Linked DNA regions of Homo sapiens. The protein of the gene in region 1 purifies or fractionates together with the protein of each later gene. This does not show direct contact. Each region holds a gene or a part of one and is shown in the gene's direction. Other genes may lie near its edges. The genes, in order: PYROXD2 and SLC31A1.

Evidence for each region.
Region 2: the proteins of PYROXD2 (region 1) and SLC31A1 purify together in Homo sapiens (co-immunoprecipitation; one large-scale study listed by IntAct). This does not show direct contact.

Annotation. Positions count from the first base shown.
Region 1 is NC_000010.11:98,398,035-98,401,858, reverse strand, and holds part of PYROXD2 (pyridine nucleotide-disulfide oxidoreductase domain-containing protein 2), read left to right. Parts: intron 1-1,601; coding exon 1,602-1,757; intron 1,758-3,824. UniProt on the Homo sapiens protein: Probable oxidoreductase that may play a role as regulator of mitochondrial function.
Region 2 is NC_000009.12:113,259,423-113,262,470, forward strand, and holds part of SLC31A1 (high affinity copper uptake protein 1), read left to right. Parts: intron 1-849; coding exon 850-1,051; 3' UTR 1,052-3,048.

The DNA of each region.
Region 1 (3,824 bases):
ATCCAGCAAAAGGCATTGCTCTCTAGGAGATGACAGTGCCACGTGTTACTGTCCCTGAAGACCCTGCAGTGGGGCAGGATGTAGAGGTGGAAGTCAGTGACATTGATGATCCTGACCCCGTGTAGGCCTAGGCTGATGTGTGTGTTTGCATTTTACTTTTTAGCGAAAAAAGGTTATAAAGTAAAAAATAAAAATAAAAAATTTTAAAAACAGAAAAAAGCTTATAGAATGAGGATATAAAGAAAATATTTTATATAGCTGTACAATGTTTGTGTTTTAAGCCAAGTGTCTTTTTAAGAGAATCAAAAAGGTTTTAAAAATTAAAATGTTTATAAAGTTTAAAAGTTTGCAGTAAGCTAACCTACTGAAGAAAATTTTTTAATAAATGTAGTGTAGCCTACGTGTACTATATTTATAAAGTGTGCAGTAGTGTACAGCAATGTGCTGGGCCTTCAGTCACTCACCACTCACTCGCCCAGAGCAACTTCCAGTCCTGTAGGCTCCATTCATCATGAGGGCTCTATACAGTATCATTTTTCTTACCTTTTATGCCATATTCTTAATGTACCTTTTCTATGTTTGTTTTTTTTTGTTTTTTTTTTTTTGAGACAGAGTCTTGCTTTGTCACCCAGGCTGGAGTGCAGTGGCGGCAATCTTGCCTCACTGCAACCTCTGCCTTCCAGGTTCGAGCAATTCTCCTGCCTCAGCCTTCCGAGTAGTTGGGACTACAGGTGCGTGCCACCATGCCCGGCTAATTTTTGTATTCTTACTAGAGACGGGGTTTCACCATATTGGCCAGGCTGGTCTCGAACTCCTGACCTCGCTGATCTGCCCGCCTTGGACTCCCAAAGTGCTGGGATTACAGTCACGAGCCACTGTGCCCAGCCTAGACATGTTTAGATACCCAAATACCATTGGATTACAGTTGCCTCCAGTATTCAGTGCAGTAACATTCTGTGCAGGTTTGCAGCAACAGGCTACACCCCACAGCCTATGTGTGGTAGGCTATCAGATCTAGTTTTGTGTAGGTACACTCTGTGATGCTCAAACTGTGATGAAATTGTCTAGCAATGCATTTCTCAGAACATATCCCCATCGTTAAGTGATGCAAGACTGTACTTACAAAGTTATTGTGAGGTAACCATTGTAAACCCTAGTACAGTCCCTGGCATGGAATGAGTGTGTCATGCTGTGATGTGGTATGACATGGCATGGCATAGTGTGGTGTGATATGGCATGGTATGGTATCACATGGTGTGGTAGGGTGTGGTATGACATGGTGTGTGTGGTGTGATGTGATGTAGTGTGGTATGGTATGATGTGGCATGGCATGGCGTGGTGTATGGCATGGTATGTGTGGTATGTATGGTATGGTGTAGAATGGTATAGTGTACTGCGATGTGATACAGTATCGTCTACCATAGGGTACTTGGGCAAGAGGGCTTTTTATAAACTTATATTTAAAAAACAGACACCAGGACCATACACTTGGGAACCTACACACAGGTACCTAAATGGTCACACAAACACAATCGGAGAAAGATGATGGGCAGAGACCACAGAGCCATTAATATGTGGCCCATGCTATTTGTGTTTTGCAGAAACATGGGCTGAGGCTTCATCTTCGAAACCCCTACTCCTTCACCCCCATGCTGGAAGAGGGTGCAGGCAGCAAGGTGCCCAGGTGCCTTCTGCTGGGCACAGACATGGCAGAAAACCAGAAGCAGATCGCCCAGTTCTCCCAGAAGGATGCCCAGGTAGGGAAGGCGACCAGTGACTGAGCTCCTGCTCCCTCAGCAGCCTAGAGATGGGCCTGGTTGGATTGTCCTAGAACAATTGTTCAAAGGCCATGGACACTGCGCCAGGCCACCCCACGTTCCTAGGAGGGCTCCAGTTGGTGGCAGCTCTTGATCTCAGGCACTGCGAAGAGAAGCGGGTGGAGGATGCTGATTAAGACCAGTGGACTGGGAGGCCTGCTCACCTGCGTGTGTTCAGTATGGGGCCACTGTCAGAGGGGCTGTGCCTGCTGAGTTCAAGAGGAAATGCACTGGCACGTTCTTACACTGGCGTGTGCTTCATGCCCCTCCAGCTTTCAGGCAGAGTTCCAGGTGTTTGTCCACATTAAAGCACATGAAAGCCAAAAAGGAGGATGAGGGAAGATCAGAGAAAATTAAGGATAAATAAACTGAATCAGGAACTTAGGACAGGAGAGTTCTAAATATTTATTCAGTGTGGCATCCCAAGGCTCCCTCCTGGCTGCCCAAGGCAACAAAGTGTCCATGATGGTGTGCAGGTCTGGTGACAGGATGAACACATGTCGGATGGAGAATGCACTTTTTTCCCTTGGAACTGCATTCTAGGAACCTGCTGGGTGGCCTTGTCTAGATGAGCCACTGAGTTCCGTAAGGGCCCTGCCACAGTTGGTTCTGTGGATATAGAAAGATTATTTGAATGGCCATTTTGTACCAAGCCTGGATATTAGCTGAGATGTAGCATTAAATCATATCTCAGTGGAGACATTTTTATAAGAAGAACCTAGGTTAATAGAACCCATGTACATTGCTTTTGTTGTGTTAATCTATTGCTGGGTAAAACTTAGAGAACCACAGACACACAGCCTACATGTCTCTTCCACCAGCAGTTTTCAAACCTGGCTGATGATCAGAATCACCTGAGGAGCTTAGCCTTTTATTTTGTTATTTTATTTTATTTGTTTTTGAGACAGGGTCTCACTCTGTTGCCCAGGCTAGAGTGCAGTGGTGCGATCTTGGCTCACTGTAACCTCTGCCTCCCGGGTTCAAGCAATCCTCCTGCCTCAGCCACCTGAGTAGCTGGGATTACAGGCATTCACCACCATGCCCGGCTATGTTATTTTTAATTTTTTTGTAGAGACAAAAGTCTCACTATGTTGCCCAGGCTGGTCTGGAACTCTTGAGCTCAAGCAATCCTCCCACCTCCACCTCCCAAGGTGCTAGGATTACAGGCATGAACCACCACACCCGGCCTGAGGAGCTTAGCTTTTTTAAAAGTGCTTCTTTGGTGGTTCTTTTGTGCAGCAGATTGGAGACCACCACCTGCATCCTCTCGTCCAAATCCTACCCATCTCAGAGGCACTTGAGGGGATTCTGCACAAGGCCAGGTCCCCGGGCCTGCAGGACACTAGCTGTGGCCCTACATGCCAGCGACCACACACGCTGGAGGCAAGTGCCCATTTCCCATCGTGGAAAGTGAGGAGCTTGATTTCTGGTTTTGTCTTTCCATGCTGTCATATTAAAGGCCTGCTTAGAGAAAGCTGTTTAACTTCATTTTTAATAAGACTTCTCGAATGTATTTTAACATGGAACTTTTCTTTATGTAACACTTATTAAAATGCCATGGGTATATCCATGGGTAGAGATGGACCAAAATTCAAAGTCCAGGGCTAAGAAGAGTCAGGTAGGGCCTCCAGTAGCACAGGCTTCTATCACTGCTCCTGTGCCCTCCAGGGAAAGGAGGGTGGGTGTCAGAAACCAGGCTTTCGAAAGTGGATTCTGACATGGGAGCTTGTGGGGTGAGAGGAGGCAGGCTTCTGTGACTGCAGGTGATGAGACGGCATGGGAGACGACCTACAGACCGGAAAAGAATACAGGCAAAGAGGTCTAACTTCTACCAATAATATAGGAAAGGACAGAAGGACAGGCCAGCGTGGCGGCTCACGCCTGTAATCCCAGCACTTTGAGAGGCCGAGGCAGGCGGATCACTTGAGGTCAGAAGTTCTTGACCAGCCTGGCCAACATGGTGAAACTCCGTCTCTACTAAAAATACAAAAATTAGCCGGGCGTGGT
Region 2 (3,048 bases), on another chromosome or scaffold:
AGTGTTATTTATTGTACTGATGAGCTTACTGGGGCCCAGAAGGATTGTGACCTACCTAAGGTGGCACAGGGGATGAGTAGCCAGGTCTCCTTATCCCTAATTAAGTAATTTCTTCTATACTACCCAACCCTCAATTCTATTTTTTTTTCTTTTTTTCTTTCTTTTTTTTTTTTTTTTCTGGAGACAGGGTCTCCCTCTATTGCCCAGGCTGAAGTGCAGTGGCACTATCTTGGCTCACTGCAATCTCTGCCTTCCAGACTCAAGTGATCCTCCCACCTCAGCCTCCTAAGTAGCTGGAACTACAGGCATGAGCCACCACACCCAGCTAATTTTTTTTATTTTTTGTAGAGACAAGGTTTCGCCATGTTGCCCAGGCTGGTCTGAAACTCCTGAGCTCAAGCAATCAGCCCACCTCGGCCTCCCAAAGTGCTGGGATTAAAGGCATTAGCCACCACCCCCAGCCTCTGTTTCTGTTTTTGTAGAATGTAAACTTTGCAAAGGTGGGAAGCCTAAAAATATTCGGGCAGATGAGCGTGAGAGGGTTTACGGCTTCCCTTTCAGGATCTAAGGTGGAGGTAAGTCGGGATTACTCCTCGTCCTTTTCTCCTCCTCCGGAAAAGGGTTCCTTCTACTGGAGGAACCACAGCCATATCTGGCCAATGTTTATAAGCCTGACAGCCCTGTGCTGTTTCATTTCCATGGACCAATCAAAGAACATTCAAGTACCCATGAGTTGCCAGAGTGGCTGTCCAGTTCCAGCTGAGCTCATGGCAAGAACTCTTCCCTCTTTCTCCTGATCTGCAGAACTCCTAGGAGTCCCTGATTGTTGTGTCCCTGTTTACTCTCCAGGCAACAGATGCTGAGCTTTCCTCACCTCCTGCAAACAGTGCTGCACATCATCCAGGTGGTCATAAGCTACTTCCTCATGCTCATCTTCATGACCTACAACGGGTACCTCTGCATTGCAGTAGCAGCAGGGGCCGGTACAGGATACTTCCTCTTCAGCTGGAAGAAGGCAGTGGTAGTGGATATCACAGAGCATTGCCATTGACATCAAACTCTATGGCGTGGCCTTATCGATTGCAGTGGGAAGTTGTTGAAGACTTGAAGACGTGATTCCTGCTCCAATCATCCCTTCTTGCTCCTCTTTGTGCACGTACACACACACACACACACACACACACACACACCCCTGCTCAACAGAGGTTTAGTTTACAGTCTCTGAACTAAAGTAGTAACCTCCCAAATTGTTTTTTCTAATAAGCTGAGATTCCCATTTCTCTTAAGGAGAAGCCACCCATGAGATGTCTTTTCCTTCTCCATCATCTTAGAGCCAAGTTATATGTTCTTGTCTAATCCATGTAGCTTTTTGTTCAATGACTTGATCATCTGCTTCCTTTTTGAATTTTTAACAGATAGTAAGTAAATTTGGTGGTTTTTTCCCCTGGGTCAGTGATGGAAAGGGGTTAACTTCAGCCAGGATTGATGGCAGCTGAGGGAAATTCTTGCCCAACTAAACCCAGAACTCAAACTTAACATTAGAAAATAAGGTCCAGGGCCGGACACAGTGGCCCATGCCTGTAATCCCAGCACTTTGGGGGGCCAAGGCAGGCTGGATCACCTGAGGACAGGAGTTCGAGACCAGTCTGGCCAACATGGGGAAACCCCGTCTCTACTAAAAATACAAAAATTAGCCGGGCATGGTGGTGGGCGCCTGTAATCCCAGCTACTCAGAAGGCTGAGGCAGGAGAATCACTTGAACCTAGGAGGCGGAGGTTGCAGTGAGCCAAGATGGCGCCATTGCACTCCAGCCTGGGTGACAAGAGTGAAACTCCATCTCAAAAAAAAAGAAAAGAAGGTCCAGCTTTTGGATTCAATGAGTGGGAAATACATTGTGCCTTTCTCTAGATGTGATACGTTATACCAAAATCTTTGTAGTGTGCAGAGCGGTGGTTTGAGACTAAATACAGGCTTAGAACTTGCAGAGTGTGTATTCTTGGATGGCTGATGCATCGACTTGCATTCCCACTTAACACTTTGATTAGCATGAACTTGCCAATCAAAAAATGACAATCAATTTGAGAAAATAGAAATAGATATTTTTAAATAAAACCATTCACAGTTTACTTTGTCTTGATACCTTGGTTTGTCCCAGCTGAAGTGAAGCAAGAGAGTTTGAATTAATTTTTCCATTATAATGTTTTCGCATGTCTGCCTCTAAAACTGTGATTTTCAAGCTTTAGCGTGCATCAGAATCACCTGTAGGGCTTGTTAAAACACTAATTGCTGGGCCTCAACCCAAAAGCCCCCAAAGTGGCACTTCTGAGTTCCTGCTGATGTTACAAGGGACCACACTTTTGAGAATCTGTGCTTTAAGCTAAGGAAATATTGCCTGGTGGGTTGGCTGCCTGGTATTGGGCATGGAAATTTGAATTGCTGATTGGTAGATGGTGTGTCTGGACTTAACTCACGTAGTAAATACTGCTGATCAATACCTAATCATTCCACATTTATTGAGCTCCACCTGTGTGTATGTGTACCCAAGCACACATGTGTGAAGGGCTATAGCCAAAGTATTTTTACTAGCCTGTATGAAATCACTAGTCCTTATTTTTAAAGGTCTATGGTTTCTTGGAAGTAGTTTGATTGTTGAGAGAGACCTTTGATCTGCAGTGTAAATCTACCAGTCATGGGCCAGAAGGGCAAAAGCCCAGCTTTCTCTTTGGAAAGACTCAGGCTGTGGTTTGTTGATGGCCAGGTTTTCCTCAGGCTCCAACAACTGTGCTTATACCAAGCAGATCCTCATCCTCCATATAATCATCTTTGTTATTCGTGGGGGTTTAATTACATTACAAGTGGCCAAAACCCCTGTTCTCAGTGAAGAACCACATTGGATTTGTATTCTGTTCAGTTGTAGTCTACACTGCAGTCTTATTCCTGGTTCAAACTACCTCTTTAAATTGATTTGTCTTGTGCTGGTCTGTTAAATCCTGCCCTCCTTGGTGCTAGATCCAGTTGTGCCTCAGGGCAGAGGAAACAAAACACAGC